Linked DNA regions of Homo sapiens: all the other regions are linked to region 1. Evidence: fine-mapped expression QTL. A gene starts in region 1. Each other region holds a variant in brackets. All regions are shown on one strand. Distances are from middle to middle.

Region 1 (8,000 bases):
GAGAGGTCAGGCCCCACCCTGCGGGGACGCCCGCCTTCACTGGGCGGCACAGGAAGGTCGGCCAGGAGGCCCATGCGCTCCCGCTCCGTGCTGCAGGCCTCCAGCGCCTAGGAGCAGGCAAAGGCATGAGAGGGCGCCTGGGGACGGGGCTTCTGCACCTGGAGGGCTTGGAGGAGGCAGGGGCCCACCTGCTGCAGAAGGCGGGGGGAGGGGAAGGCTGTGACAACTGCATCAGCCACGGCTGGGCTGACCCGACTGAACTGCCTGATCTGCCTCCGCCAGGCCGCCTGCAGCCCTGCGCCGTCTCTTGCCACTGGCTCGCCGGCTGCCCAGCGCCCTGCTGTGCAGAAGGAGAAGGCCTGGGATTCCCGGTACTGCCTGGGGACAGAGAGAAGCCTTTTAGAACCTCATGTGAGCAGCTCCCAAAAGGCCGGGGAGGCACCACTACCTTGAGGTGATCCTGCCCCCCTTCAGCCTTGGCATCACGCACTTGAGGGGATACTGGGCGAGAGCCTTGGTAACGGCGCACACGTGCCGACTCAGCTCCTGCCAAGAGGCCACCAGTAGCACGTCCAGGTTTGCCCAGAGCTGCAGGAGTACCAGGGCCTGGGGAGGAGGCAAGCTGATGGGCACGAGCCAGAGGAAGGCTACCCGGGACACACAGCTGATAGCTGCCCCATGTACCACGCTGGGAACCAAACCCAGCCAGCAGCCCAATCACTGGGACCCAGGCCACCTGACTCACCCAGCTCAGACAGGCCCTCACCTCTTCCACCTCCGGCCAGCTGACGGCCACCTCGGCACCGGCCACCTTCGGGCTCTCTGGCTGCTGTGTCCCCCGGGAAACGTGCTGGCGAGACCTGAGCAGAGGTGACCATTCCTCCCCGCTCCCCATGGGGCCTGCCCTGCCCGAGCTTGGCCTCTGCCAGAGCCCACCTGGAGAAGTGGGATCAGCTGTGCCACAGCAACCCCAGAAGTGTGCCCACCTCCCCTGAACCCCCGTCCCAGCCAGCCCTGCTGTGGGCATGAGAGTGAGCGGTACCACAGGTAGGCATCCAGCCCGATGACAGCCAGGTGGGGCCGGGCGGTGGTCTCGGGGGAGATCCAGGGCACCCAGTGGGTTGGGCCAGAGATCTGAAGATGAGAACGTGTGGCACAGTTGTTCACAGGAGGCTGCGGCCTATGGCCATGGGCCACCAGGCCACAGCTGGTTTGCAGAACAGCAAGCCTGAAAAAGAGCCAGTGGTGCCGAGAGGAGCCTCTGTTCCGTTACCCCTTCTGAGAAAACCAGCTCTGTGCCTCCCACGAGGCCAAAGAGGCTAAGGAGACCCTGGAGTGGCTGCTCGGGCACATGTCAGTTCCATTGAGCCCCTCATCCTGGTCCACCTCTGTACTCCAGCCTAGCTTTGACCTAGCACAAAGCAGCAGCTTGAGAGACACTGATCCTGGGACACAGGGACCTGGCAGGGGGTCTAGCCTAACCCCACGCTACCTGGCACCACAGCACCTGAGCACTGCTCCCCGCAGGCAGGGGCCAGGCTGTCTGCTGTCAGAGGACGAAGCCTGCAGCCTACTGCCCGGACCCCGGCCTCCTGACACTTCTCAGGATCCTCTAGGAGCAGCTGTAGCCTCCGCAGGTGCCCAGGAGCTTTCTCCATCTCACCCTAGAAACCTCTACGGCTTTGGATCAGAGAGGAGTCCTGGCCTGCCCCATGCCCCCTCCAGCCCCGTCTACAGGGGCAGGGACCGGCGGAGCAGGCGCCTCCCGGCTGGGAACCCACCCCTCCTGATTAGAGAGGGACTACTGCCACCACCCGAGCACCTGGGTCAGTGTGGCGACGCCCTGCAGAAACTCCTCGGGCTCCAGCAGCAGCAGCAATTCCTGTTCACCTGCAGCCCACACTTCAGGAGGCAGCTGTGGGGACATGGGGACGCGCTGCTGCCTGTCTCAACCCCGGGTGCCCCAGGGGCCCTGCCTGGGCAGTCCAGCAGCAAAGCGGTTCGTGGCCCCAGCCAAGCCCAGGCCCTGACAGGCCTGCTCTACAGAAGCCCAGTGTTCCCTTTCCTGCCAAGGCCAAGCTCAGGCCAGGTCTCTGTGGCTGGCAGGAATCCAGACCACAGCCTGAATCGAGACGGAACCTTCTCCAGCCAGCTCGGCTCTATACCAGCAGAACGGCTTGGGCACCTCCACTTCCCGTTCTCCATCCTTGCTTTACCCATCCGCGAGACGCGCACGGCCCAGGGCAGCTGCCTCAGGGACAGCTCCAGGGCTGAAATCATGGAAGCAAAACAGCCAACTCGCGGCTGGCCCTCGGGAACCCGCGACCACTCACGCTGCGGGGGCAGGGGTCGGGACTCGCTCGGGTCCACCGCAGGCTGCGGGCCGGGCGCTGGGGCTCGATGCGGCACTCGCAGCCCAGGGCCTCCAGGGCCTCCATCAGGACGTCGGCACCGGCGTCTTCCAGGATGGCTGGGACCGGGGGAGAGGAGCGCGGTCACTGCTTCCTTCCACCCTCGCGAGCGCCCTACCTGGGCGGGTGGCCGGACCGGGGAGTCTCCATTCGGCACAAACCCCCGACTGGGAGGCGGGCCCGGCCCCAGGCCCCTCGGCACGCGCGCCCCGCCCAGTCGGACAGAGGGCGCCGCCTGGCGGAGAAAGGCCTTTCCTACCCCGAGTATCGCCCGTGCCCTCCGCCGCACCTGTGTCCACGCACACCGCGAGGCGCTTCAGGACCTGCTCCGGCCGCAGCAGCCGCAACGCCTCGGCAGCCGCCCTGCGCTCACCCGCTGGGTCCCGGGCTCTCGCGGCGGCCTCCGAGCCGGCGGAGTCCTCAGCGTCGGAGTCTGAGATCTCCCAGGTTGGAGGTCGCCGCTGACCGCTCCCGCCCCGTCCCCGGCCCCGGCCCTGGCAAGAGACCCCCGCCCTCCCGGGTCCAACCCGCGCCATGGCCGGACCGACCTCTTCCTCGCTTCCGGCCGCGACCGAACACTTTAGCCTGGGACACCGGCCTCTTCCGGTGACTTCCGGCCGGACCGCTGAGGACGCGGACCCGCCATGGCGCGGAAGAAGGTGCGTCCGCGGCTGATCGCGGAGCTGGCCCGCCGCGTGCGCGCCCTGCGGGAGCAACTGAACAGGCCGCGCGACTCCCAGCTCTACGCGGTGGACTACGAGACCTTGACGCGGCCGTTCTCTGGACGCCGGCTGCCGGTCCGGGCCTGGGCCGACGTGCGCCGCGAGAGCCGCCTCTTGCAGCTGCTCGGCCGCCTCCCGCTCTTCGGCCTGGGCCGCCTGGTCACGCGCAAGTCCTGGCTGTGGCAGCACGACGAGCCGTGCTACTGGCGCCTCACGCGGGTGCGGCCCGACTACACGGCGCAGGTGCGTGCACCCCGTCCGCACCCCGCCCCTGCAGCCGCCTGGTCTCCCCGCCTCCCCTCCTCCCTGCAGGTTTGCGTGGCTGAGGCTCCCACCTCCTGACCTCGGGGGCCGAGAGCTTTGCGAGCTGACCCCGCTTCCTTCTGGCTTTGCAGAACTTGGACCACGGGAAGGCCTGGGGCATCCTGACCTTCAAAGGTAAGGCTCGGGAGAGCGGGTGCCCGGCAGTTCGATGCCGACCGCCGACGGCACAGCAAGTGTGTGCAGACGCCTCTTTTTCTTCATCAGGGAAGACTGAGAGCGAGGCGCGGGAGATCGAACACGTCATGTACCATGACTGGCGGCTGGTGCCCAAGCACGAGGAGGAGGCCTTCACCGCGTTCACGCCGGCGCCGGAAGACAGCCTGGCCTCCGTGCCGTACCCGCCTCTCCTCCGGGCCATGATTATCGCAGAACGACAGAAAAATGGAGACACAAGCACCGAGGAGCCCATGCTGAATGTGCAGAGGATACGCATGGAACCCTGGGATTACCCTGCAAAACAGGAAGACAAAGGAAGGGCCAAGGGCACCCCCGTCTAGAATGCCAGAACCAGCGGGTGGCCTTAGGGGCTGTGAGGCAGTGGGGACCTTATTGATGAAAGAAACCGTCTTTGCGTTACACCCGAGTCTGCCTCTCGGAGCAGGGAGCTCACCTTCCGCGACGTGTTCTGAGGGTCTGCATCTTAGGGGGGAGGGCTGGGGCAAATCGCCACCTGTGCCTTTCCTCTGGCCCTGCTGCCCCCACACCCAACTCCGAGGGCCCACGCTGGGGAAAGCGGGAAGCGCTCGCTCCCTTTCCCCCATTAGTGCTCTCTCTGCCTGGATCCCGGCAGAAGCTATGAAAGGGAATAAAGAGAAAAGAAGTACCCAGGGTCGTGGTGTCTTTGCGCTCTGTCTTTAGGACCGGGGAGAGAAGGGCTGACGCTGTGGTCGTGGCCCTGGCCGGGGGGGCGCGGGGGGGGCGGGGTTCGGGCGGTGCGGAGCAGGGCGCCGCGTGGGTGGAACCACCTGGGCGGGTTGTGGGGGATACAGTTAGTGTCCGAGCTGCTGGAGGAGACTTGGCCTCCGCAGCTGCCCTCCGGCCCCCCACGGCTGCCGGGTTCCGGGGTGCAAGTGAAGCAGCCTCCCCGCGGAGGCCGCAGCGCCCCGACCAGGCCTCTTTAAGCGCAGGCCCCGCCCCGGGCGCCACCGCCCCGCCCCGCGGATCCCGCTCCCGCACCGCCATCATGATCTGCCTGGTGCTGACCATCTTCGCTAACCTCTTCCCCGCGGGTGAGCCGCGCGGCGCGGGCCGGGGGCGGGTGGCCGGTGCTGGGCCGGCCTGACGGCCCGTCCCCGCCTGCCCCGCAGCCTGCACCGGCGCACACGAACGCACCTTCCTGGCCGTGAAGCCGGACGGCGTGCAGCGGCGGCTGGTGGGCGAGATTGTGCGGCGCTTCGAGAGGAAGGGCTTCAAGTTGGTGGCGCTGAAGCTGGTGCAGGTGGGGGCGCGGTGAGCGAGCGGGGGCGCGGTGTGGGGGGAAGGGGAGCGGGGACCTGGGGACGCCTAGGTGCCGGGTGCGGGCGCAGGCGGCCTGACCCTTCCGCAGGCCTCCGAGGAGCTGCTGCGTGAGCACTACGCCGAGCTGCGTGAACGCCCGTTCTACGGCCGCCTTGTCAAGTATATGGCCTCCGGGCCGGTGGTGGCCATGGTGAGTATCCGGGAAGCGGGCGGGCGGCTCCGGGACCCCCACCCCCGCGTGATACCGCGCCCGTTCCTCCGCACAGGTATGGCAGGGGCTGGACGTGGTGCGCACCTCGCGGGCGCTCATCGGAGCCACGAACCCGGCCGACGCCCCGCCCGGCACCATCCGCGGGGATTTCTGCATCGAGGTTGGCAAGTAAGGCCCGCCCCGGGGACGGTCCCAGCCCCGTCCGGCCTCCCCCTGTTCAGCCTGCGTGGTACCCGTGCCGGAGGTCTCTTTCCCACGCTCACACGCGCCTCTTCCGCGCAGGAACCTGATTCACGGCAGCGACTCGGTGGAGAGTGCCCGCCGCGAGATCGCTCTCTGGTTCCGCGCAGACGAGCTCCTCTGCTGGGAGGACAGCGCTGGGCACTGGCTGTATGAGTAGCCCGGCAGATGCGCGTCACAGAGGCTCTCACACTCCAGCCTCCTCCAGGGCCCAGGTGGGCGGGCTTCTGGCCCCACCCCACAGCGCTTGGAGCATCCCTTTGGACGGGCTGCTGAACATCCACCTGTCTGGACGTTGCATGGAGGGTGGCGCAGGCCTCTCCAATCCCTGGCGTACAGGGTTTCCTGCCCGAGGAGCTGCTCCAGGAGCCTGCGCGGCTCGCCTGGAAACGTGCCAGGACACTGTCCTGGTGCCCAGCCCAACGTGGTCCAACGTTTTTTTATAATAAAGTCCTCGTTTTCGTTTCGATTTGGGCCCAGGAACAGGCAGCTACGACGTTAAGACATTTATTACATACAGAGCAGATATGTGGGTTTGCTTGCAGGGCCAAAGCCTGAGGAGAATCGTCACCCCTCCCCCAGCCGCCCCACTGCTCAGCCCGGAGTCACTTCGAGATCCTGGGGGAACAGACGAGGGAGCGGACATACATCACAGTGGAGGTGGCAGGGTGGTGGGGAGAAGCCGGCAGCGCAGCGGCTGCAGCCCTCGGTGGCCAGCGGGGCTTGTGGGGCAGCTCCCCAAGATCTGTGCTTCTCTGGTTGGGGGTGGGTGCGGGGGCTGGGCTGCCCTCATAAGGGCCTCCCAGACAGGAGTGCAGTGGGCCTGGAAGGTAGGAATAGGCCAGAGAGGCCCAGCTGGGCAGGGAGAGCAGTCCAGGGTGGCGTCTGCCCTCTGCGGGCTTGGAGTCGGCTGGGGGCGGCTCCATCCTCAGCCCCACGGGCCTCTGCTTGGTGGCCTCTCTGTTGCTCCCTGGAAGCAGGCCACAGCGGGCAACCCTAGGCACTTAGTAGCGTGTCTGGGAGCTGGGCTCCGTGGAGCCCCGTGCAGGAGGCAGGCCCCGGGAGCACATCATCCCCCATCAACCTGAGGCTGAGCCTGTGTCCTAGGACTGATCCCGGAGAGGCCAGGGGCCTCCCCTTCTTCCTGAGGCCTGGGCCTGCCCTGGCAGCCTGAGAAATCCCACCCTGGGGGCTTCTGGGAGGGACAGGACTCCAGGGCCCACTCCTCCAAGGTGAGTCTTCTGCCCAGGCAGAGCCTGGGGGGACACGGGTCAGAACGGGGCTGGCAAGAGCCTGCCTGCATGGGCAGGATGGGGTAGCAGTCTCTGTTCTCAAGCAGCTGCCCCAGGGAGCCGGGCCTCGTGCTTTTATGCCAGCTCCCTGGGCAGGGGACAGCTGGGGTGGGGACAGACAGGATAGAGGCTTGACGACGGGGAGGCCCCAGAGAAGGCCGGCTGGGGTGCAGGCACCTGGGCAGCCTGAGGCCCACCTCCCTGGGCAAAGGCTAGTGCCTGGCCCAGCTCCCCTAGGCAGAGTGAGGGCCCAGGAGGCAGGGTGGCCCCATGAGCAGCATGCAGAGGTGGGCCCAGGGCAGGCAGCCTCGGCGGCGGGGAGCCCCTGCCTCCTCCAGGGGTGCTGGGGAGTAGGAGGCCCAGGGTAGAGCCAGGACCACCTCGGATTCTGCCTGCGCTGGGCCCAAGGTGCCCTGGACTTGAGGACTCTGGGCTGGAAGCTGGCCAGGAGCTGCCCGGGAAACTGTCCCGAGAGCATCTTCCCCTCGGGTGGAAGTTCCCCTCCCCTCCTCCTCCCAGCTGATCCGCATCCCCGCACTCCCTGCCCGCTGGAGGGGCCAGACTCAGGTGAAAGCTGCAGGTTGAGAGGTTAGAAGAGGGGCGGCGGCGCCTGGCTGGCTACCCCGCGGGCCGGGCGGGGGTCAGGTGGTCGGGGGTCCTATGTACAGGTCGGGCCAGGCAGGGCAGCAGCTTCACTCGGGGGTGTAGGACACCTGCCACACGATGATGTGACTGCGCTCTGCCTTGGACAGCACGGGCTTCACCTGGCTCATGTCCCCTGCGCCCTCCTCCGTCTCGTCGTCCTCTCCGTCTCCTGCGGGCAAAGCAGCAGAGTGACGGCCAGGCTCCCCCCGCGCCCAACCTCAGCCCTGTCCCTGGGCCCCGCTCACCAATGCGGAAGTCGATGTAGCCCTCCCCGCCGCTCAGCACCAGCACGTTCCGCAGCTTCTGGCCCTCGACCTCCGAGGCAGGGGCAGCTGGCCCAGGGCCCTCGGCTGGGCTGTCCAGCACACTCCCATTCAGGGTGGCCAGCACGTTCCCTGGGATGGCAGAAGCGATTCAGGACAGCGGCCTCCTGGGGGAGGCGGCGGCCACTGGCATGCAGGGGATGTGGATGGCAGGAGGGGCCCAGCCTCACCTGGCACCGAGACAAAGAACTTCACGGCATCGCGGTGCCCATGGAAGCATAGCTGGGCCTGGGCCATGGAGCAGTAGGGGATGAAGCTGCTGGCCGCCCTGTCACTGCTGTCATCGCCATACACGTGGATGATGCCCCCGGGACGGGCGCCCTCCCCAGAGGTGGGGGATGTCTTATTGGCTGCAGGGAGAGAACCCAGAGGCG
Region 2 (8,000 bases), 160 kb before region 1:
AACCTCCATTCAGACCCACACCGCTGTATGGAGGGGACCAGGGTGCCTTGAGGAAGGACCCCCCAAATTTATCCTGTTCGTCTTTTCCCAGCCTTCTCCAAAGGGATCTCTATGGCAGTGCACTGGGGAAAAGGAGATCATGAGACCTTCTGGGGACTCCTGGATGCTGGCTCTGAACCGATGCTAACTCTGGAGTCAGACGTCACTGGGTCAGAGTAGGGGCTTATGAAGGCCCAGTGACTGAGGGAGCGTTGGCTCGGGTCCGATCCCAGTGGACCTGTCCCGTGGTCATCCCCGGTTCCGGGTGTACAATTGGAAGAGGCACCCTCAATGGAAGGCAGCGTCCCCCCACAGGAGGGGCAGTGCCTGCAGTACAGGCCACAGTGGAGACCGGGGAGAGGCCAGCCGTGCTGCCAGCCCCTTCAGCCTGCTCACCCCTCACGGAGCTGACTCTGTCACCTGCCAGCCCCTCCGCAGCCCGGTCTAGCAGTCCCTGCTCTGACGTGGAGTCAGTGCCGTGGCAGAGGCCGCTGTCTCCCTTGCTGGCCTCGGACTGCTTGCGTGACCCTGATCTTGGGCGGGACATTCGACTTTCCTCTCTTTGTGCCTCCCTTAGTGGCACCCAGCCTGTCTTCCGGTTGGATGAGGGCACAGGAGAGCCACCCGGGGCGGGCAGGGGATGCTACAGTTGAATGGGTGCTGTGTGCACTGCCCTGTGGGTCAGAGGCCTGACTCCTGGCGCTGCTGGCCAGTGGGCTCTCCGTCTAGAGGTAGGGGCGCGTGGGGCGGGTGCTGGGAAGAGTCAGTGTTGATGAAAGCACCAAGGGCCCTTCGGGGAGGACCGTACCCAGAAGGGGCTTCCTGCTGCTTGCCCCTCCCCCAGCATGTGCTGTGGCAGCCTCCTGTTCTAGCAAATGTCTCCATCTCTGCCCTGCTGGGGGCCAGAACTGAGGCTAGCTGCCAGAATCTCCCTGGAGCTGCGGAGAGCAGGGGGGTGTCTCTCAACCCCTGATTCCAGCTCCCACCCATGCCCTGATTTTTTTACACCTGGACCCCAGTGTGTCCGACGCTGGCCACCAGCTAAAGTGGAGCCCGCTCTGGGGCTGCCCTGGCCACCCAGTGTCTTCGTTGGCTCTCGGGCACTGTCCTAGCCCAGCCTGTGGCCTGCCCACCCCCTAGTCCAGCAGGTGAGAGCAGGCCCGCTGCAGCGACTGACCCCAGTGCAGCAGGTACTCTCCTTAGCCTCATTCTTCTGGGGAGACAAGGGGGACTCAGAGAACGCGATTAGTCTGAGGCCACACAGCTGGGAGAAGCCCTGTGTCCTCTGCCGCCAGGGACCTGAGCCACTCCAGGCCACATGTGGCCGGCTGCCAGTGGCCTCTGATCAGGGTCCTTGTCCTGCCATGCTGAGTCATTTGGTGATGGCGGGTCTGGCAGGGGGTGCACAGGGCTCCCAATACTGTTCTAGGCAGCCAGTTCAGGTCCTCTATGCCCACACCTGTCCCTTTCTGCTTCTCCCTGCAGGAGGAGCAGTGGCTCTGGGAAGGGCTCTGTGGGCAGGTCCTGTGGAAGGCGGCTCTGCTGCGGCAGGGAGGGAGCTGCTGAATGGGCAGCAGGCTTCCCAGGCACAGGGCCAGGCAGGGGCCTGGGCTGTGCTGCCTTCTCCCAGCACTCCCAGCTCTGCACCTGGGGCCAGTGTTTCCCCGAGAGTGGACTCAGGCCCAAGAGCAGACTGGCCTTCGCCTGCAAACTGGGCCCCTGTGTGCAGGGTTTTGTCCCCAGGGCTGTCTACCAGGCTCAGGCCGGTAGCTGGGTGGCTGGAGGCCTGCTGGCGCCTGGGGATCTCAGCCACAGCAGTGCAGGGGTGGTGATCCTGGTGGGGGCTGGGGAGTAGTGCCTCCTGCCTGCATCCCAGGGCCCCAGGCTCATCCAAACATCCATGTTAAGGTGGTGGGCCGGACACAGTGGCTCACGCCTGTAATCCCAGCACTTTGGGAGGCCGAGGCAGGTGGATCACCTGAGGTTATGAGTTCTAGACCAGCCTGACCAACATGGAGAAACCCCATCTCTACTAAAATACAGAATTACCCGGATTACCCGGGCGTGGTGACCCATGCCTGTAATCCCAGCTGAAGGGGAGGACTGCCCCTCCACACCTGTGGGTATTTCCAGTCGGGTGGGACGAGAGACTGAGAAAAGAAATAAGACACAGAGACAAAGTATAGAGAAACAACAGTGGGCCCAGGGGACCGGCGCTCAGCATACTAAGGACCTGCACTGGCACCGGTCTCTGAGTTCCCTCAGTTTTTATTGATTATTATTTTCGTTATTTCAGTAAAAAGGAATGTAGTAGGAGAGCAGGATGATCATAAGGAGAAGGTCAGCAAAAAACATGTGAACAAAAGAATCTATATCATAATTAAGTTCAAGGGAAGGTACTATGCCTGGATGTGCACGTAGGCCAGATTTATGTTTCTCTCCACCCAAACATCTCAGCAGAGTAAAGAATAACAAGGCAGCATTACTGCAAACATGTCTCACCTCCCACCATAGGGTGGTTTTTCTCCTATCTCAGAACTGAACAAATGTACAATTGGGTTTTATACCGAGACATTCAGTTCCCAGGGGCAGGCAGGAGACAGTGGCCTTCCTCTATCTCAACTACAAGAGGCTTTCCTCTTTGACTAATCCACCTCAGCACAGACCCTTTACAGGTGTCGGGCTCGGGGACGGTCAGGTCTTTCTCATACCACGAGGCCATATTTCAGACTATCACATGGGGAGAAACCTTGGACAATACCCTGCTTTCAAGGGCAGAGGTCCCTGCAGCTTTCCACAGTGCATTGTGCCCCTGGTTTATTGAGACTGGAGAATGGCAATGACTTTTACCAAGTATACTGCTTGTAAGCATTTTGTTAACAAGGCACGTCCTGCACAGCCCTACATCCCTTAAACCTTGATTTCATACAGCACATGTTTTTGTGAGCTCCAGATTGGATCAAAGTGGTTGGGTCAAAGTGGCTGGGGCAAAGCTACAAATTAACAACATCTCAGCAAAGCAATTATTTAAAGTACAGGTCTTTTTCAAATGGAGTCTCTTATGTCTTCCCTTTCTACATAGACACAGTAACAGTCTGATCTCTCTTTCTTTTCCCTACACCAGCTACTCGGGAGGCTGAGGCAGGAGAATCGCTTGAACCTGGGAGGCTCAGGCTCAGCCTGGGAGGCTGAGGCTCAGGGAGGTTGTGGTGAGCCGAGATGACACCATTGTACTCCAGCCTGGGCAACAAGAGCAAATCTCCGTCTCAGGAAAAAAAAAAAAAAAAAGATGTGGTAGGGAGGTGGGGGTGGGAGGGGGCAAGTGGGCTCAGGAGGTGGGGGGGGTGCCGGCAAGCAGACTGCTTGAGTGGGGAGACGGGTGAACCGCAGGACCCCAAGGCCCCCTCACATTGAGAGTCCAGGGAGGGATGGCTGTGGGCAAGGTCTGTATGCCAGGTCACCGGAGGAGGGGGTGGTGTTTCCAGCAATGGAGCGTCTGGTGTGGAATCAGTCACCTTACCCTCCCGCTCCTGCTGGGTGATACCCCATCCTTGCGGCTGCCCCCGCGTCTTCCTTGAGGAACAGCAGACTCTGAGGGGGCAGCCCCTTCCTCCCCAGGGCACGGCCTTGCCCCTCAAGGGTTGGGTTCAGGGGCAGCGGGCAGGCCTGGGCACGGCTGGGCCGTCACCTCGGGCGAGGGATGGGGAATAAAAAGGAACTCTGTCTGAGACACCGTGATCCCTCGCCGGGGCCCAGGCCTGGCTCAGAGCAGCCACCAGGAAGCGTCTGCGGCCCGTATGGGGGAACAGACCATACTTCAGACCCTTGCTCAACCACCGCTTTCCGCTCTCTCAGTGGCAGGTGCCGCGCAGAGCCTGGCCCTGGTGGGGCTGTGGCCCCTGGTGGGGGTGGGGGCCGTGGGCAGCTCCCGGGAGGCTCCTACCCGCGGACGGGTCGGCAGGTGGGAGGAGGGGGCGTCCGGTAGGGTCGGCGAAGGCGCCGAGGCCACGTGCAAGCCCCGGCCCTCGAGGCGGCCTCCCGGGCCCGGGCGCGGGACCGTGCGCAGGACTGACCAGCAGGGGGCACGCTCGCTC[G/C]GTGCTGCCAGGCCGGGTGGTCTGCGTGCGCAGGCGCGGCGGGGGGCCTGACGGCGCTGCAGTTCCCCGGGTGGCCGCGGGGGTTGCGGCGGAGGCAGCGAGCGTCCGCGCAGAGAAACCGCCTCGGCCACGCCCGCCCTTGGGCCGGTGCTGGGGACCCAGGCCGAGGCCTCTGGTCGTCTGAGGGTGCCAGGGGCAGCTGCAGGGGGTTTGCCGGGCTTCACGAAGTGACCGCTACAGGGAGTGCAGTCGCAGCCACGGGTGCCCCTTCCAGGGTCACCGGAGGACAGAGCCAGGGGCGGGGGCGGGGGTGGCGCGGCCGGTGGGAACGGCAGGCGTGGTTGGGGGCGCGGGTGGAGGCAGGACGCCCCCAGCCCCTTCTTCAGGGCAGCTGCGTGGGACCCAGGCTGCCCGGACCTGGCCCGCCCTCAGGGCTAGATCCTAGGGTTCCACATCCCAGGCCTCTTTCCTCCGCCCACCTCTCCCCGCTACAACCCAGGCAGCTCCTGGCTGCCTTCCCCCAACCAGAGTCCTCTCTGCAAAATAATAACCAGACCAGGTCCCTCCCTCAGAGGTTCCCACAGTCCTTGCCTGCTCTGACCTAGGCTGACCCCACCTCTCCAGCTTGATTTCCTACTCCATAAATGAGATCGGTGTTGTTTATCATAATTACAGTTTGGGGTTGTTTCTTTTTTTTTTTTTTTTTGAGACGGAGTCTGGCACTGCCGCCCAGGCTGGAGTGCAGTGGCGCGATCTCGGCTCACTGCAAGCTCCGCCTCCCGGGTTCACGCCATTCTCGTGCCTCAGCCTCCCGAGTAGCTGGGACTACAGGCGCCCACCACTGCGCCCGGCTAATTTTTTTGTATTTTTGGTAGAGCCGGGGTTTCACTGTGTTAGCCAGGATGGTCTCGATCTCCTGACCTCATGATCCGCCCAGCAGGGCCTCCCAAAGTGCTGGGATTACAGGCATGAGCTACCGCGCCGGGCCTGGTTGTTTCTTCTTGAGAAGGGGGTTTCTCTGTTGCCTGGGCTGGAGTGCAGTGGCATGACCATGGATCACTGCAGCCTTGAATTCCTGGACTCAAGCGATCCTCCCAGGTCAACCTCCCGAATAGCTAGGACTACAGGTGTGCTACTACGCCCCGCTAATTTTTGTATTTTTAGTAGAGACAGGGTTTTGCCATGTTGTCCAGGCTAGTCTGGAACGCCTGGGCTCAAGTGACACTCCCGCTTTGGTCTCCCAAAGTGCTGGGATTACAGGCATGAGCCACTGTGCCTGGCTAATTTTTTAAAAAAACTTTTTGTAGAGACGTGCTCTGGCTTTGTTGCCCAGGCTGATCTTGAATTCCTGGGCTCAAGGGATCCCCCACCTCGGCTTCCCAGAATGCTGGGATTATAGGTGTGAGCTCCTCAGCCCAGTCAATTATGTTGTTGTTACTGCCCGCATCACCTGAACCCAAACCCTTTCACCTGCACCTCCAGGCAAACCAGACCCCACTCTAGAAACACATCCTTGCATTCCTAGAGTTTGTTTTTCCTTCTTCTGTTTTGTCCTTCCACACGCATCACAACCCTTCTAGAAGCTTTTCTTGGGGGCTCTGCCCCAGTGGTCCTCTCCTTCCCCCACAGCAGGGGCCTGGGTGGGCCTCCTCTGTGCATGCAGACTGGGCCCCTGTTACCCTCTTGCAGGCCTCACCCATCCTAGGTCAAGGAGCTCCTCAAAGCCATCAACCACAGCACCTTCATCTCATTCTCTCTCTCTCTTTTTTTTTTTGAGATGGAGTCTTGCTCTGTCGCCCAGGCTGGAGTGCAGTGGCACAATCTCGGCTCACTGCAACCTCCGCCTCCCAGATTCAAGCGATTCTCCTGCCTCAGCCTCCTGAGTAGCTGGGATTACAGGCGCGCGCCATCACGCCGGCTAATTTTTGTATTTTTAGTAGAGAGGGGGTTTCACCATGTTCGCCAGGATGGTCTTGGTCTCTTGACCTCGTGATCTGCCTGCCTTGGCCTCCCAAAGTGCTGGGATTACAGGCGTGAGCCACCATGCCCAGTCTTTTTTTTTTTTTTTTTTTTTTGAGATGGAGTCTTGCTCTTTTGCCCAGGCTGGAGTACAGTGGCACAATCTCGGCTCACTGCAACCTGTGCCTCCCCCGGGTTCAAGTGATTCTTCTGCCTCAGCATCTCGAGTAGCTGGGACTACAGGCATGCACCACTACATCCAGCTAATTTTTTTTTTTTTGTATTTTTATCAGAGATGGGGTTCGCCATGTTGACCAGGCTGGTCTTGAACTCCTGACCTTAGGTGATCCGCCTGCCTCAGCCTCCCAAAGTACTGGGATTACAGGCATGAGCCTCCACACTCAGCCCCAAATATATTTTAAGTGTCTCCTTTTCTCTATCACCAATGCCACCTCCCCAGCCCAAGGCTCAGTCATTCCTCACCTTCAGTACTGTGATAACCTGGTTTAGAACCTAGTTGATTCGGGCCAGGCGCAGTAGTTCGGTCTCCCAAAGTGCTGGGATTACAGGCGTGAGCCACCATGTCTGGCCCTCATTCTGTTTCTTAAATGCTGAGCCCTCGGGGTGCTGCGTACGGCAGCAGCAGATGAAGAAATGTTCACCCACTCACACCACCTGCTCCGTACTCCCCTTCAGGGTTGCACAATCTTGGGAGGGGTGCCAGATGTGTACCCCACATCTACATGGATGTGTTGGCGGTCTGGGGAATGCAGGGTCCTCAAGCCACCTATCACCCTCTCCAGGGCCTGGGCACTAAGGCTGTGGTTAACAGAGCTTGGGGTAAGAAGCCCTGGGAAGAAGGTTGGTGGGGCTTCAGTGACAGAGGGCCAGGAGGCGGCTGGGGAGGGGCTCAGGGTTACCTGTGGATAAGCTTTCTCCACTTCCAACCCCTCACGGCCCTCCACTCCCTGTCTCCTTGTAAAACCTTGGAGGTTATTCATGGTTCAGCCCCTGACTTCCTGTCTTACCGAGTTTCATCTCCAGGACATTTATAAGCTACTCTTGGCTTCGAAGGGTTTGGTGGCTGCAATGCAGGAGAGGGGAGGAGAGGGTGGCCAGAACCAGGTGGGCTGGGTGCCAGGACCCCTGGGGTCTGCTTCCAGCCATGGACTAGGCCTGCTGGCCCTGGGCTTCCCCTTCCACCTCAACTCCATGGCCTTTTTGGTCTCGAAGTCTCTCTCGGAGTATGATTCTTTGCTGGGCCCCAGAACTCCAAGCCGGGGAGCCCCTGGTGTGTATCCAGGTCTAAGGCGAGGGAGGGCAACTGGAGTCAGAGAGAGGACAGCAGTGACCAGCCTGGGAGATGAGGGATGGAGTCCTGGCTCTCGGCCAGAGGGGTGGGGGGAGGGGGAGGGGTTGACTTTGAAGGCTGTGAAGCCTAAGAGGGGCGAGGCAGGGGTGGGGGTTGGGAAGAGGAATTTAGAGCTCTCGGCCTGACTGCAGGTTCTGAGTCCTCCTGAGCGTTGAACCGAGTAAGACAGGCCACATGCCTGTCTGGTCCACTGCGGGGGTGAGGTGCTGCCCCCGGAAGTAGGGCAAATGGAGGTGCCCTTGCTGGGGATCCTGTCTGCTGGCCAGGGGGGACTAACTCTTCAAAAGGGGCTTACAGGCAGGCGCGCACGGTGGCTCGTGCCTGTAATCCCAGCACTTTGGGAGGCCGAGGCAGACGGATCACCTGAGGTCATGAGATCGAGACCATCCTGGCCAACATGGTGAAACCCCATCTCTACTAAAAATACAAAAAATTAGCTGGACATGGTGGCACATGCCTGTAATCCCAGCTACTCGGGAGGCTGAGGCAGGAGATTCACTTGAACCTGGAAGGCGGAGGTTGCAGTGAGCCGAGAT
Region 3 (8,000 bases), 36 kb after region 1:
CACGGATGCTCACACGCTCACACGGATGGTCACACGGATGCTCACATGGACGGTGACACGCTCACATGGACGGTCACACACGGACGGTCACACACACACGGTCACACAGATGCTCACACGGACGGTCACACGGAAGCTCACACGGACGGTCACTCACACGAACGGTCACACAGATGCTCACACGGACGGTCACACGGAAGCTCACACGGACGGTCACACGGAAGCTCACACGGACGGTCACACACGGACGGTCACACACACACGAACGGTCACACAGATGCTCACACGGATGGTCACACGGAAGCTCACACGGACGGTCACACACTCACACGAACGGTCACACATGCTCACACGGACGGTCACACGGAAGCTCACACGGACGGTCACACGGAGGCTCACACGGACGGTCACAGGGATGCTCACATGGACGGTCACACGGATGCTCACACGGACGGTCACACGGATGCTCACACGGATGCTCACATGGATGGTCACACTCTCACACGGATGGTCACACACTCACACGGACGGTCACAGGCTCACATGGATGCTCACACGGACGGTCACACAGATGCTCACATGGATGGTCACACTCTCACGGACGGTCACACGCTCACACGGACGCTCACACGGACGGTCACACGGATGCTCACATGGATGGTCACACTCACACGGATGGTCACACACACGGACGGTCACACGCTCACACGGATGCTCACACAGACGGTCACACAGATGCTCACATGGATGGTCACACTCACACGGACGCTCACACGCTCACACGGACGCTCACACGGACGCTCACACAGATGCTCACATGGATGGTCACACACACGGATGCTCACATGCTCACACGGACGGTCACACAGATGCTCACATGGGTGGTCACACTCTCACACGGACGCTCACACACATGGATGCTACACGGATGGTCACACAGATGCTCACATGGATGGTCACACTCACACGGACGCTCACACGCTCACACGGACGCTCACACGGACGGTCACACAGATGCTCACATGGGTGGTCACACTCACACGGACGCTCACACGCTCACACGGACGCTCACACGGACGGTCACAGATGCTCACATGGGTGGTCACACTCACACGGATGCTCACACGCTCACATGGATGCTACACGGACGGTCACACATGCTCACATGGATGGTCACACTCACACGGACGCTCACACGCTCACACCGATGCTCACACGGACGGTCACACAGATGCTCACATGGATGGTCACACTCACACGGATGCTCACACGCTCACACGGATGCTCACACGGACAGTCACACAGATGCTCACATGGATGGTCACACACACGGACGGTCACACGCTCACACGGATGCTCACACGGACGGTCACACATGCTCACATGGATGGTCACTCTCTCACACGGTCACACGCTCACACGGACGCTCACACGGTCACACGGATGCTCACATGGATGGTCACACTCACACGGATGGTCACACACACGGACGGTCACACGCTCACGGATGCTCACACGGACGGTCACACAGATGCTCACATGGATGGTCACACTCACACGGACGGTCACACGCTCACACGGATGCTCAAATGGATGGTCACACTCTCACACGGATGGTCACACACACGGACGGTCACACGCTCACGGACGCTCACACGGACGGTCACACAGATGCTCACATGGATGGTCACACACACGGACAGTCACGCTCACACGGACGGTCACATGGATGCTCACATGGATGGTCACACTCTCACACGGATGGTCACACACTCACACGGACGGTCACACGCTCACACGGATGCTCACACGGACGGTCACACAGATGCTCACATGGATGGTCACACGGACGGTCACACGCTCACACGGACGCTCACACGGACAGTCACACGGATGCTCACATGGATGGTCACACACACGGACGGTCACACGCTCACACGGATGCTCACACGGACGGTCACACAGATGCTCACATGGATGGTCACACACACGGACAGTCACGCTCACACGGACGCTCACACGGACGGTCACATGGATGCTCACATGGATGGTCACTCACACGGATGGTCACACACACGGATGGTCACGCTCACACGGATGCTCACACGGACGGTCACACAGATGCTCACATGGATGGTCACACACGGACGGTCACACGCTCACACGGACGCTCACACGGACAGTCACACGGATGCTCACATGGATGGTCACACACACGGACGGTCACACGCTCACACGGATGCTCACGGACGGTCACACAGATGCTCACATGGATGGTCACACTCTCACACGAATGGTCACACACTCACACGGACGGTCACACGCTCACACGGACGCTCACACGGACGGTCACACAGATGCTCACATGGGTGGTCACACTCACACGGACGCTCACACACTCACACGGACGCTCACACGGACGGTCACACAGATGCTCACATGGATGGTCACACTCTCACACGGACGGTCACACACTCACGGACGGTCACGCTCACACGGATGCTCACACGGACGGTCACACAGATGCTCACATGGATGGTCACACTCACACGGACGCTCACACGCTCACACGGACGCTCACACGGTCACACGGATGCTTACATGGATGGTCACACTCTCACGGATGGTCACACGCTCACACGGACGGTCACACGCTCACACGGATGCTCACACGGACGGTCACGGATGGTCACATGCTCACACGGACGGTCACACAGATGCTCACATGGATGGTCACACTCACACGGACGGTCACACGCTCACACGGACGCTCACACGGACGGTCACACGGATGCTCACATGGATGGTCACACTCTCACACGGACGGTCACACGCTCACACGGATGCTCACACGGACGGTCACACGGACGGTCACACGCTCACATGGACGGTCACGGATGCTCACATGGATGGTCACTCACACAGACGGTCACACACGGACGGTCACACGCTCACGGATGCTCACATGGACGGTCACACACGGACGGTCACACGCTCACACGGACGCTCACACGGACGGTCACACGCTCACACGGACGGTCACACACGGATGGTCACACAGACGGTCACACGGATGCTCACATGGATGGTCACACGCTCACACGGACGGTCACACGCTCACACGGACGCTCACACGGTCGGTCACACGGATGCTCACACGGACGGTCACACGCTCACACGGACGGTCACACGCTCACACGGACGCTCACACGGACGGTCACACGGATGCTCACATGGATGGTCACACGCTCACACGGACGGTCACACACGGACAGTCACACGCTCACACGGATGCTCACACGGACGGTCACACACGGACGGTCACACGCTCACACGGACGCTCACGGTCACACGGATGCTCACATGGATGGTCACACGCTCACACGGACAGTCACACGCTCACACGGATGCTTACACGGACGGTCACACACGGACGGTCACGCTCACACGGATGCTCACACGGACGGTCACACACGGACGGTCACACGCTCACACGGATGCTCACACGGTCACACGCTCACACGGACGCTCACGGTCACACGGATGCTCACATGGATGGTCACACGCTCACACGGACAGTCACACGCTCACACGGATGCTTACACGGACGCTCACACGGATGGTCACACATGCTCACACGGACGGTCACACGCTCACACGGACGCTCACACGGACGGTCACACAGATGCTCACATGGATGGTCACACACACGGACGGTCACACGGATGCTCACATGGACGGTCACACTCTCACACGGATGGTCACACACACGGACGGTCACACGCTCACACGGATGCTCACATGGACGGTCACACTCTCACATGGACGGTCACACGGATGCTCACATGGACGGTCACACGGATGCTCACATGGGCGGTCACACTCACACAGACGGTCACACGGATGCTCACGGATGGTCACACGGATGCTCACATGGACAGTCACACAGATGCTCCATGGACGGTCATATGGATGCTCACACGGGCGGTCACGCTCTCACACGGACGGTCACACGGATGGTCACACAGATGCTCACATGGACGGTCACACTCTCACATGGACGGTCACACGGATGCTCACATGGACGGTCACACTCTCACATGGACGGTCACACGGATGCTCACACGGACAGGCACACAGACGCTCACACGGACGGTCACACGGATGCTCACATGGATGGTCACACTCACATGGACAGTCACACGGATGCTCACACGGATGGTCACACGGATGCTCACACGGATGGTCACACGGACTCTCACATGGACGGTCACACTCTCACACGGACGCTCACACGGACGGTCACACGGCTGCTCACACGGATGGTCACACGGACGCTCACATGGACGGTCACACTCTCACACGGACGCTCACACGGACGGTCACACGGATGCTCACACGGATGGTCACACGGACGCTCACATGGACGGTCACACGTTCCACACGAACGCTCACGTGGATGCTCACATGGACGCTCACACGCTCACATGGACGCTCACTCACATGGACACACACGGAAACACGGACAGTCACATGGACCGTCGCACACTCACAGACGGTCACATGCTCACACGGATGCTCACACCGATGGTCACATGGACGCTCACACGGACGGCCAGGATGTGGTGATGTGAGACACGCAGGGCGGCCGTACCCCGATGAGACAGAAGCCACACACAGGCACCCAAGAGGGACAGACATGCGACACACGAGCCCTCTTGGCTTTGACAAGAGGCCCTGGAACGGGGCTGTGTGGCAGTTCAGCCAGTGCCACGTGTCCCCAGTGCCGTGCACTGCGCGAATGTCTCAAGACAGCGCCTGGCACGTGTGTACACATGGCACGTGGTGACGGCACACATGTGGCCACACAGACACACACACACTCTGCAGCAGTGGCCCGAGAACACTG[CCTGG/G]CGTTTGCACTCACACCGACTGCATTCCAGACACACACTCACTAAGCCACGCCAGGCGTGAAGGAAAATGTCCATCTGGGTCAGGAAGGAGGGCGCCCAGCGCTGAGGATGGACGGCGCCCTCATGGTGAATCAAGGGGTTTTGGCTGAGCAGATGGGACTGACTCAAATATGTGTCCCCCAAGGGACCAAAGGTTGTGGCAGGACAGAATCCACACCAGAGAAGAGAGAGCAGGTGTCCAGCAGGGACGGGCTCCTTCCAGCTCAACTGCCCAGCAACAGCATACATCACCAAGGCCTGTCCCAGCACCCCTGACCCCACAAAGGCAAGCACTCGGGACAGGGGAGGGGGGCCGTGCCTTCCTCCTTTAGCTGGCTCATGCCTTCAGAGGCACAAGGCTGTGGCTGCCATCCACGCCTGCAGGCAGGTGGCAGACAGCACGTGAGCCCCACCCTCTCCTTCCTGGCCAGGGTCTCGGCCTGGGGAGGCAGGGGACACACGAGCCCGGAGGTGGCTCTTAATGCCACCACCGCAACAGCAGGCGTGACCGATTCCGTGCGCTGGTGATGCGGCTCAGTACCACCGCCGGCCAGGGAGGGAGGCAGGGGTAGCCCAGCCATAGCCCTGCCCCTCTGTCGCCCCCATGGAGCATGCTCCCGTCAGGGCCTCGGCATGCTCAGGGAGACAGGGCCGCCAGCCCCAGCGCCTTCTTCCCGCAGGGCCAACGTCTTCTCACGTGCTGTGGAGATCTGGCAAGGAGGCCCAGGGGCCAGAGTAATGTAGCTGCGCAGACCCCACTGCAGGGTGCCTTCTGGCTGGATCCAGTCATGGCAACCAAGGCTTTGGTGTAAACCTGGATGAGACCCCTCCCTCTCCCACAGAGGTGCAGGGGTCCTGTTTCACAAATGGAGGCTTCCTGGGGTCCGTGGCTGGGGAAGGCCCCTACCACACAGCCACTGCTGCTGGCGTTGCTCCCACGGCCGGTGCCAAAGGTCCTGTGTGCCCAGAAGAAGTGAATGGCTGGGGCCAGGTCAGGCAGAAGGACCTGGTTGTGGCAGCGCTGACAAGAGAGCACCCCAGATCCATCCCTTACAAAATGATCGAGGGGCTTCTTCCAGAGGGCACCGTCTGGTTCCCTGAGGGGAGTGCAGCAGCCCTGACATAGCCTTCAGGAGCCGTGGCAGAGCTGCAGAGGGGACCCCAGCAGTGGGGCCCTGACAAGGACGAGGTGCACCACCATGGGGCTTCCCACTGAACTCTCGGCGCCAGGACGAGCCAAGGGACGGGGGCGGCGCCCAGCCCAGACTCAGCTCAGGTCCCTGGGTCCCGCGGGGACACCTCGACAGCAGGTTCCTGGGCCACCTTCTGCCCCACACCATGAGAGAAACATGCAGGACGAAGTACTCCTTGCCCCGCAGCCACGCGCCTCTTCCAGGTAGGCCTGGCCTGGCCCATGACGACGGCAGCATCAGGCGGCTCTGGAGCTGGGGCAGCCTCTGCTCTTGGCTGAGCTCACATGGCCCTGGGGCTCTCAGGACCTCTCGGGTGTTGTCTGTGGGCCTGGGGTGGGGATCACTGCAACTCGGAACCTGGGCTCTCGGCCGGCGTCCTGAGTTCACACGTCACACCTCTGGGATCTGGGATGAGCTGGGCACACTGTTGCTGGGCTCCTCCTGCCCAGGCGCCCTCCGACACAGCCTCAGAGGCACTCCTGTCTGAGGCTGCGCTGGCAAGGAGGCAGCTGAAGGTTCTGGAATGCTGCAGCTCCCAGGGGATGGCCAAACTGCCTGCCTCTGCCCCCAGCTCCCCTGAAAAACAACACAAAGATCCCGGGTCCAGGTTCGATTTTAATTCCAGTTAGCTTGGAATCCTCTTCCAACTGCCGAGAGCCAGAGGTGAGGATGTCCCAGCGTGCATGCCACGAGACGGGAGCTGCGAATGAGAATCTCCCACTGTGGGATCTGATGGAAACACCTGCAAGGCTTTCACAGCTTGCCAAGCTGGCATCCACACGCCCCGGTGTAGTTCTCATGGTGCTCCAGGTGGGCGGATGGCTGGCGCTGCCCATTCTTGGGGCAAGCTGGCATCCACACGCCCTGGCGTAGTTCTCATGGTGCTCCAGGTGGGCGGATGGCTGGCACCACCCGTTCTCGGGGCAAGCTGGCATCCACACGCCCTGGCGTAGTTCTCATGGTGCTCCAGGTGGGCGGATGGCTGGCACCACCTGTTCTCGGGGCAAGCTGGCATCCACACGCCCTGGCGTAGTTCTCATGGTGCTCTGGGTGGGCAGATGGCCGGCGCCGCCCGTTCTCAGGGCAAGTCCCTGAGAACTGCAGGTCCCTGCTCCAGCTGAGAGCAGCGAGACTGCCTGAGGACCTGCTGCTGCAGGCTCCACGGCACGCCCCTGGCCAGCTGGGCCTTTGCGCACACCGTGCATTTGCTCTCACGTCCAGAGACTCGGAAGCAGAGTCTGACAGCTTCTTCTGTATCATCCAGAACGTGACCCATGAAGCCCAGAGCTGGACGTTCTGACCCTTCTCGTTTGCAGGTGTAACCCCCAGAACAGGCAGGCACGATGCAGCTTTCGCAGCTGGCCAGGCCTTGATGGGGTGTGAGGGAGGCTTTTGCCATCGCAGCCCTGGCTGTGGGAGGCTTGGGGGCAGAAACAGGCTTCCCCCCTTCCAGCTGCCCCAGCTCTGTAGGACGGCAGCTTCTGACTTCAGGCCCTTCCTCCCCGCTGCTGGAGACTCAGAACGAGAGCGCCAACCTCCCCAGCCCAGGTCGCGTCTCTGGTCTCCCATGGCCGGTCCCCTGGAGCTGCAATACCCTGGCAAGATCTCTGATGCTCTGCTCCCTGGGGCCTGCAGCCCGGCTTTCTCCTGATTCAAAGGGCACAGAAAACGGAGAGGAACCCATTCTAGGCAGGCTCCCCCGACTCTCTGAGGAAAACCAGCACCGAGCCCTGGAAACCCACCGGTACCCCCACCCTGTGGAAGGAATAAGACTCAGTGCAGGGCTGGCCAAGGCTCCTGGGCTCATCCACACAGTATTTGAGGCAGTATGTTCTAGAAAGTCCCTCAAACACTA
Region 4 (8,000 bases), 630 kb before region 1:
ATGTAAAGTGTATATATACTATACACACACACTATATATGTGTATAATGTAAAGTATATATGTACTATATAATAAAATGTAATATATATGTAAAATATATATACTAATATGTGTATATATACACGCACATACTATATATATACACATACTACATATGTATATATACACGCACATACTATATATATACACATACTACATATGTATATATACACACACGTGTATATATACATATTATATATACATTTACAGTGTATATATGTAAGTATATATAATCATATATATATATATAAATAGTATATAGTATGTGTGTGTATGCACACACACACACTTAAATAATAGAGCCTGGGTCTTACTTTGTTGCCCAGGCTGGATTTCAGTGGTGATCATGGCTCATGGCCGCCTCAAATTCCTGGGCTCAAGGGATCCTCTTGCCTCAGCCTCCCAAGTAGCTGGGACTGCAGGCATGGGCCACTGTATCTGGCCTGGAACTAGTTATATAATTACTTACATAATATCCTTGATTATGCTGCTAAGCCTACATAGCATAAAATAGTTACTATGTGGTCCTTTTTTTTAGACATAGTCTCACTCTGTTGCCAAGCTGGAATGCAGTGGCCCTATCTCAGCCTACTGCAACTTCTGCCTTCCAGGTTCAAGCAATTCTCCTGCCTCAGCCTCCGGAGTAGCTGGGACTACAGGTGCAGGCCACCACACCCAGCTAATTTTTGTATTTTTAGTAGAGACGGGGTTTCACCATGTTGGCCAGGATGGTCTCGATCTCTTGACCTCGTGATCTGCCCACCTTGGTCTCCCAAAGTGCTAGGATTACGGGCGTGAGCTACCGCGCCCGGCTGTGTGGCCCTTTAAGAAAAAGTCTGCTGACCCCTGCTCTAGGCAAAAAGATGTGTTTGGTTGGCAGCAAAGTGTCAATGTGCCAGGAAACTATTTCTAGTCAAAGGCTTTGGGCCATCATTCTACTAAGAATTTGTCACACCAAAATAACCCAGGAAATTGACTTTTTTCCTTCAGTATGGTTCTGTAAAACATGGTGTATTTGTTATCTAATGCTGTGACACAGATTATCCCAAAAGTTAGTAGCTTAAAACAACAGTAAAAGTTATTATCTCACACAGTTTCTGGGGGTCTAGAATTTGAGAGTGGCTTAGCTAGGTGTTTCTATATTAAGATTTCTCATGAGGCTGCGGTTAAGCTATTAGCCAGGGCTGCAGTCCCTTGAAGGCTTGACTGGGGCTGGGGCATCTACCTCCATGAGCAGAAAGTTCAGAGAGTTTCCTATATACACATCTCCCACCCTCATTTCCCTATTTTTTTTTTTTCTTTTTTAGACGGAGTCTCTCTCTGTTGCCAGGCTGGAGTGCAATGGTGCAATTTTGGCTCACTGCAACCTCCGCCTCCTGGGTTCAAGCGATTCTCCTGCCTCAGCCTCCTGAGTAGCTAGGATTACACGCGTGAGACACCACGCCCAGCTAATTTTTGTATTTTTAATAGAGACAGGGTTTCACCATGTTGGCCAGGATGGTCTCAATTTCTTGACCTCAGGTGATCTGCCCGCCTCGGCCTCCCAAAATGCTGTTATTACAGGTGTGAGCCACAGTGCCCAGCCCCATTTCCCTGTTTTTAACATCTTGCATTAGGGTGGTACATCGTTACAAATGAAACAGCATTTCCATCAGGTTCTTTTTTTTTTTTTTTTAAGAAATTGATAAGTTTATTTTAAAATTTACATGATAATGTCAAGGATCTACAATACCCAAAACAATCTTCAACAAACAGAATAGGGTCTCAGTTTTCCCATCTGTAAAATGTAGGGGTTGAGCTCTCGCTCTCGCTCTCGCTCTCCCTCTCCCTCTCCCTCTCCCTCCTCCTCCCCCTCCCCACGGTCTCCCTCTCCCTCTCTTTCCAGGGTCTCCCTCTCATGCCGAGCCGAAGCTGGACTGTACTGCTGCCATCTCGGCTCACTGCAACCTCCCTGCCTGGTTCTCCTGCCTCAGCCTGCCGAGTGCCTGCGATTGCAGGCGCGCGCCGCCATGCCTGACGGGTTTTCGTATTTTTTTGGTGGAGACGGGGTTTCGCTGTGTTGGCCGGGCTGGTCTCCAGCTCCTAACCGGGAGTGATCCGCCAGCCTCGGCCTCCCGAGGTGCCGGGATTGCAGACGGAGTCTGGTTCACTCAGTGCTCAGTGGTGCCCAGGCTGGAGTGCAGTGGCGTGATCTCAGCTCGCTACAATCTCCACCTCCCAGCCGCCTGCCTTGGCCCCCCAAAGTGCCGAGATTGCAGCCTCTGCCCGGCCGCCACCCCGTCTGGGAAGTGAGGAGCGTCTCCGCCTGGCCGCCCATCATCTGGGATGTGAGGAGCCCCTCTGCCTGGCTGCCCAGTCTGGAAAGTGAGGAGCGTCTCTGCCCAGCCGCCATCCCATCTAGGAAGTGAGGAGCGCCTCTTCCCGGCCGCCATCCCATCTAGGAAGTGAGGAGCGTCTCTGCCCGGCCGCCCATTGTCTGAGATGTGGGGAGCACCTCTGCCCTGCCACCTCGTCCGGGATGTGAGGAGCATCTCTGCCCGGCCGCCCCGTCTGAGAAGTGAGGAGACCCTCTGCCTGGCAACCGCCCCGTCCGAGAAGTGAGGAGCCCCTCCGCCCAGCAGCCACCCCGTCTGGGAAGTGAGGAGTGTCTCCGCCCGGCAGCCACCTCGTCCGGGAGGGAGGTGGGGGGGTCAGCCCCCCGCCCGGCCAGCCGCCCCGTCCGGGAGGTGAGGGGCGCCTCTGCCCGGCTGGCCCTACTGGGAAGTGAGGAGCCCCTCTGCCCGGCCACCACCCCGTCTGGGAGATGTACCCAAGAGCTCATTGAGAACGGGCCATGATGACAATGGCGGTTTTGTGGAATAGAAAGGCGGGAAAGGTGGGGAAAAGATTGAGAAATCGGATGGTTGCCGTGTCTGTGTAGAAAGAGGTAGACATGGGAGACTTTTCATTTTGTTCTGTACTAAGAAAAATTCTTCTGCCTTGGGATCCTGTTGATCTGTGACCTTACCCCCAACCCTGTGCTCGCTGAAACATGTGCTGTGTCCACTCAGGGTTGAATGGATTAAGGGCGGTGCAAGATGTGCTTTGTTAAACAGATGCTTGAAGGCAGCATGCTCCTTAAGAGTCATCACCACTCCCTAATCTCAAGTACCCAGGGACACAAACACTGCGGAAGGCCGCAGGGTCCTCTGCCTAGGAAAACCAGAGACCTTTGTTCACTTGTTTATCTGCTGACCTTCCCTCCACTATTGTCCTGTGACCCTGCCAAATCCCCCTCTGCGAGAAACACCCAAGAATGATCAATAAAAAAAAAAAAAAAAGAAAAAACAGAATAAAGCTGGGAGAACAATATACTACCTGACTTTAAGATATACTGCAAAGCTACAGCAATCTCAACAATGCAGTACTAGCACAGGACAGACAAACAGATCAATGAAACAGAAGAGGGAATGTAGAGACATACAGTCAACTGATTTTTGGTTAAGGCATCTGAACAACTCAATGTGGAAAAAAAAGTCTTTTCAACAAATAGTCTGTCCCATCTGGATACTTATGTGAAAGAAAATGAGCCTCAACCCCTGTGATATATCATTATCACGAGGCAGTGGTATCATTATATCACACGGGTCAATAAAATATGTTTTCGTTCATAGTTCCTGGCCCGTAACTCGTGTAGCTGTTATTTCTCCCCAAGGCAGTCCACAGAAACTAAAAATATAATCTTCCTGCATCTTTCTGTCTTGGAGCTGGCCATAAAGAAATTCTCTGACCCATCTTGCCTGATTGTAGGTCATAAGACCTCCCCGTTTTAGAAGGTGTCCTATACCATACCCTGGGGGAAAGAACGCTGCACAGAGAGGCCAGGAAGGATCTGAACAGACAGGCCTTGCTGCGTTTCCCCACTCAGACTGTTAGTATTACATCATACTCTTTTTGTCCAGTCTCATTTCTACACAGCTGTCCATGCTTTAGTCATGCCTATCCAATGAAGTCTCCATAGAAGGCCCAAGAGGAGCTTCCAGATAGGTGAACAATTGGAGGTTCCTGGAGGGTGTCACACCCGGGGAGGCCACAGAGGCTCCATACCCTTTCCCACATACCTCACCCTATGCGTCTCTTCTTCTGTATCCTTTGTACTATCCTTATAATAAACTGGGAAATGTGTTTCCCTGCGTTCTGTGAGCCACTTTAGCAAATTAATTGAACCTAAGGAGGGGGTAATAGGATCGCTAGTTTACAGCTGGTCGGTCAGAAGTACAGGTAAGTGTGTGGTAGCTAACCCTGTAATCCCAGCTACTCAGGAAGCTGAGGCAGGAGGATCACTTGAGCCCAGCCCAAGAGATAGAGACCAGCCTGAGCAACATAGTGAGGCCTTGTCTCTTAAAATAAATAAATAAATAAATAAATAAATAAATAAAGGACAGGTAAAACAACCTGGGGCTTGTGATTGACACTGGAAGTGAGAAGTCTTGTGGAACCTAGCCCTCGACCTGTGGGATCTGATGCTATCTCCAAATAGTGTCAGAATTGAATTGGAGGACACTTAGCTGGTGTCTGCTGCAGAACTGATTGCTTGCTTGCTGTTGGCGGGAAATTCCCACACATTTTGTCATAGAAGTCTTCTGTGTTGATTGCTGTGATGTGAGAGCAGAAGAAAAACAGTGTATGTTTTTCCATTTCACCTCTTATCAAAC[C/T]GTACACAAGGCTGGGCACTGTGGCTCACGCCTATAATCCCAACACTTTGGGAAGCCGAGGTGGGAAGATTGCTTGAGCCCAGGAGTTAGAGACCAGCCTGGGCAATATTGCAAGACCTCGTCTCTACAAAATATAAAAAACCTAGCCAGGCGTGGTGTGCATCTGTAGTCCCACCTACTTGGGAGGCTGAGGTGGGATCACTTAAGCTCAGGAGCTGGAGACTGCAGTGAGCTGTGATCACACCACTGCACTCCAGCCTGGGTGACAGAGTGAGACCTTGTCTTGCATACACACACACACACACACACACACACACACACACACACAACCATACACAAAAATTAATAGAAAATGGGTCACAGACCTAATGTAAAAGCTAAAATGATAAAATTCCTAGAACAAAAAGTAGAAGCATGACTTTGTGACCTAAGGGTAGGGAAATATTTTTTAGAAAGGATACAGAACACAGTAACTATAAAAAAAATTTAGGGGCCAGGCATGGTGGCTTACGCCTGTAATCCCAGCACTTTGGGAGGCCAAGGTGGGCAGATCACCTGAGGTCAGGAGTTTGAGACCAACCTGGCCAACATGGTGAAACCCCGTCTCTACCAAAATACAAAAAGTTAGCTGGGCGTGGTGGCGTGCACCTGTAGTCCCAGCTACTCGGGAGGCTGAGGCAGGGGAATCCCTTGAACCTAGACGGCGGAAGTTGCAGTGAGCCAAGATCATGCCAGTGTACTCCAGCCGAGGTGACAGAGTGTGACCCTGTCTCAAAAAAATAAAATAAAAAGCTACCACTAAGAATATTAAGAAGCAAGCCACATACTGGAAGAAAATGTAGATAAAACACGTATCTGACAAAGATTTATATCTAGAATATACAAAAATTTCAAAAACTCAAAAAATGAAAACTGAGCTACAGGTTTAATAATTGCATACCTTTTGGTATATATGTTATACTTCAACAAAAATGTAAGTATTTAAAAAACTGGCTGTGTGTAGTGGCTCATGCCTGTAATCCCAGCACTTTGGGAGGCCAAGGGGGTGGATAGCTTGAGCCTAGGAGTTTGAGACCAGCCTGGTCAACATAATGAGACCTCATCTCCACAAAAAAGAAAATACTCTCAATGGAAGTGTTTAGCTGAAGATCAGAAACATCTGCAGAGAGAATCAACGACCTGGATGTAGATCAGAAGATATTATGTAGAGTGCAGCTCAGAGAGACAAAGAGTTGGAAAATATTTAAAAAGTTAAAATTCACATAGTAGAGTGATAAGATCTAATATGTCTAATTGGAGTTCCAAAACGAGAGGAGATATTTGAGCAGAGGCCCTGTATGAACAGATAATAATAGCTGGGGATTCTAAACTCATGGAAGATTTCCATAGCCAGACATCAATCAAGTCTCAAGTAGAATATGCATGTATCAAAATATCACATGTATCCCAGACATATGCACATTATGGATCAATAAAATTTGTTTAAAGACCAGGTGCAATGGCTCATACCTGTAATCCCAGCACTTTGGGAGGCCAAGGTGGGTGGATCACTTGAGGTCAGGAGATCGAGACCAGCCTGGCCAACATGGTGAATCCCCATCTCTACTAAAAATACAAAAGTTACCTGTAATCTCAGGCACTTTGGAAGGTTGAGGCAGGCAGATCACTTGAGGTCGGGAGTTTGAGACCAGCCTGGCCAACATAGTGAAACCTCATCTGTACTAAAAGTACAAAAATCAGTTGGGTGTGGTGGCAGGCGCCTGTAGCCCCAGCTACTCAGGAGGCTGAGGCAGGAGAATTGCTTGAACCTGGGATGCAGAGGCTGCAGTGAGCCAAGATTCAGGTATCCCTGTTATTGGAAGTACTAGTCAGAGGCTGGAAGGCCATTCAGTGAGGTTGCTACAGAAAAGATTCAAGCATCAGGCAATGTTTAGACAGATGACCTTTAAGATCCCTTCCAACCCTAAGAACCTTGGAGTCTTACAGTTTTATACGTGCTTACCTTATGAAGACATCCTCCATGGTCATGACAGAGGCCCCAAAGCTGGAGATGCCCAGCTCTACCTGCCTCAGTTCCAAGTCAGTAAATAGAGATTCAAACCTGGAAGGAAAGAAATGGTTTTAGTCCTGAAAGGTGTAAGGTGAATCCCTTTCATCACTGCCCTTGGCTCTCTACTGGGGAAAAAGCATGGACTTTGGAGTCAGGAACGTATTTTTTCAAACACCAGCTTTGTCATTAGCTTTATAACTATGTGAATGTCAGGGGCCCTTCACAGTTTTTTACCTATTAACTCTGTATTAAGGTCTGTGGATGCTTTCAACAGCTCTTTGAGGACAGTGCTGAGAAGTTAAGAAACTTCCCTGAGGCCACACAGCCAGAAGCAGAAGAGCCAGGACTCAAGCTCAGGCCTTTCGTCTCCAGAGAGAGTGGTTTTAATTGTTATTTAAGCGAGGAAAGGAGATAATTCTTTTAGCCTGCTAATGTTAAAACCTTTCTCAAACATGCTTTCCATTTTTTTTAAATTAAAACAATCATGGCTTTTGTTTGTGATATTAAGAAATCCATCATAATGTTCTATAATGAAGGCTTCTATTCTCTCACAACCTAGTGTCCAACTTTTAAGAAACCAGACACATATGCCAGATGCCTATACGAGGTCTGCAGGGGCTTTGTGTGTGTCCCTGTGAGCAGACAATGGTTATAAACTAATCATGGCTGGGTTTGAGTCTAGACTCTGTCACTTACAAGTTTTGTGACTTTGAGCTAGTTGTTTCACCTTTCCAAATCTTCCCTCACCTGTAAGACAGATATTACCTAATTCAAAAAGTTGTAAGGATTGAGAAAAATGTAAAGATGCTTAGCAAAGTAGCCCCCCTGTGTTAAATATTCAGCAAATACTATTTACTGAATATGATCAACAGTCACACCCTCAGTATGTTCACTATCTTGCTCTTCATTCAGTTTCCAGTTACTGAAATTGTACTCATGCTATTGCTACTGTCTTGCCAACAAGATCACAGTAACCATTTTAAAATATTGAGGCAGAATTTAGGTAAACTATCTTGTTCTTACATGTATAGTTTGATGAGTTTTGACAAATGTGTAATATCACCCTAATCAAGACACCGAACATTCCATCACCCTAGAAAATGCCCCCATGTCCCCTTTGATGAGTCCCTCTCTTGCCCTCAGACAACCAAATGTCCTAAATTTTACATTAGTTTTACTTCTTCTTGCTCTTCATGTAAATGGAATCATATGGTCTT

The links. PIP is the estimated chance that this variant, and not a neighbour inherited with it, causes the effect.
Region 2: its variant is fine-mapped to the expression of EME2 in whole blood (TOPMed, PIP above 0.99).
Region 3: its variant is fine-mapped to the expression of EME2 in whole blood (INTERVAL, PIP above 0.99).
Region 4: its variant is fine-mapped to the expression of EME2 in lymphoblastoid cells (GTEx, PIP 0.97).

The regions. Positions count from the first base shown.
Region 1 is chr16:1,768,175-1,776,174 of GRCh38, reverse strand. It overlaps EME2 (essential meiotic structure-specific endonuclease subunit 2), which reads right to left and starts at 3,365. Exons shown (of 8, transcript NM_001257370.2): 1 at 2,701-3,365; 2 at 2,334-2,470; 3 at 1,823-1,915; 4 at 1,043-1,134; 5 at 767-860; 6 at 491-606; 7 at 189-378; 8 at 1-107. The coding sequence starts at 2,947. It overlaps MAPK8IP3 (mitogen-activated protein kinase 8 interacting protein 3), which reads right to left. Exons shown (of 32, transcript NM_001318852.2): 30 at 7,797-7,976; 31 at 7,549-7,698; 32 at 5,824-7,472. The coding sequence ends at 7,351. It overlaps NME3 (NME/NM23 nucleoside diphosphate kinase 3), which reads left to right and starts at 4,632. Exons shown (of 5, transcript NM_002513.3): 1 at 4,632-4,686; 2 at 4,765-4,895; 3 at 5,004-5,105; 4 at 5,182-5,294; 5 at 5,409-5,855. The coding sequence starts at 4,641. The coding sequence ends at 5,526. It overlaps MRPS34 (mitochondrial ribosomal protein S34), which reads left to right and starts at 3,041. Exons shown (of 3, transcript NM_023936.2): 1 at 3,041-3,376; 2 at 3,529-3,571; 3 at 3,662-4,280. The coding sequence starts at 3,056. The coding sequence ends at 3,954. RefSeq lists enhancers at 1-495, 1,331-2,119, 2,977-3,116, 3,907-3,996, 7,507-7,556 and silencers at 2,297-2,356, 2,367-2,476, 2,487-2,796, 2,827-2,926, 3,287-3,426 and 2 more.
Region 2 is chr16:1,925,988-1,933,987 of GRCh38, reverse strand. No RefSeq gene overlaps it. Among named protein-coding and RNA genes, the nearest start is that of HS3ST6, 12 kb to the right of the region's middle. The variant G/C (reference allele first, on the strand shown) is at 4,134.
Region 3 is chr16:1,731,831-1,739,830 of GRCh38, reverse strand. All of the region lies in intron 4 of MAPK8IP3 (mitogen-activated protein kinase 8 interacting protein 3), which reads right to left. It overlaps MIR3177 (microRNA 3177), which reads right to left and starts at 4,846; the gene lies at 4,765-4,846. RefSeq lists enhancers at 1-553, 3,866-4,365, 4,366-4,867. The variant CCTGG/G (reference allele first, on the strand shown) is at 4,910.
Region 4 is chr16:2,394,674-2,402,673 of GRCh38, reverse strand. It overlaps the pseudogene ABCA17P. Among named protein-coding and RNA genes, the nearest start is that of CCNF, 31 kb to the left of the region's middle. RefSeq lists an enhancer at 1,570-2,317. The variant C/T (reference allele first, on the strand shown) is at 4,734.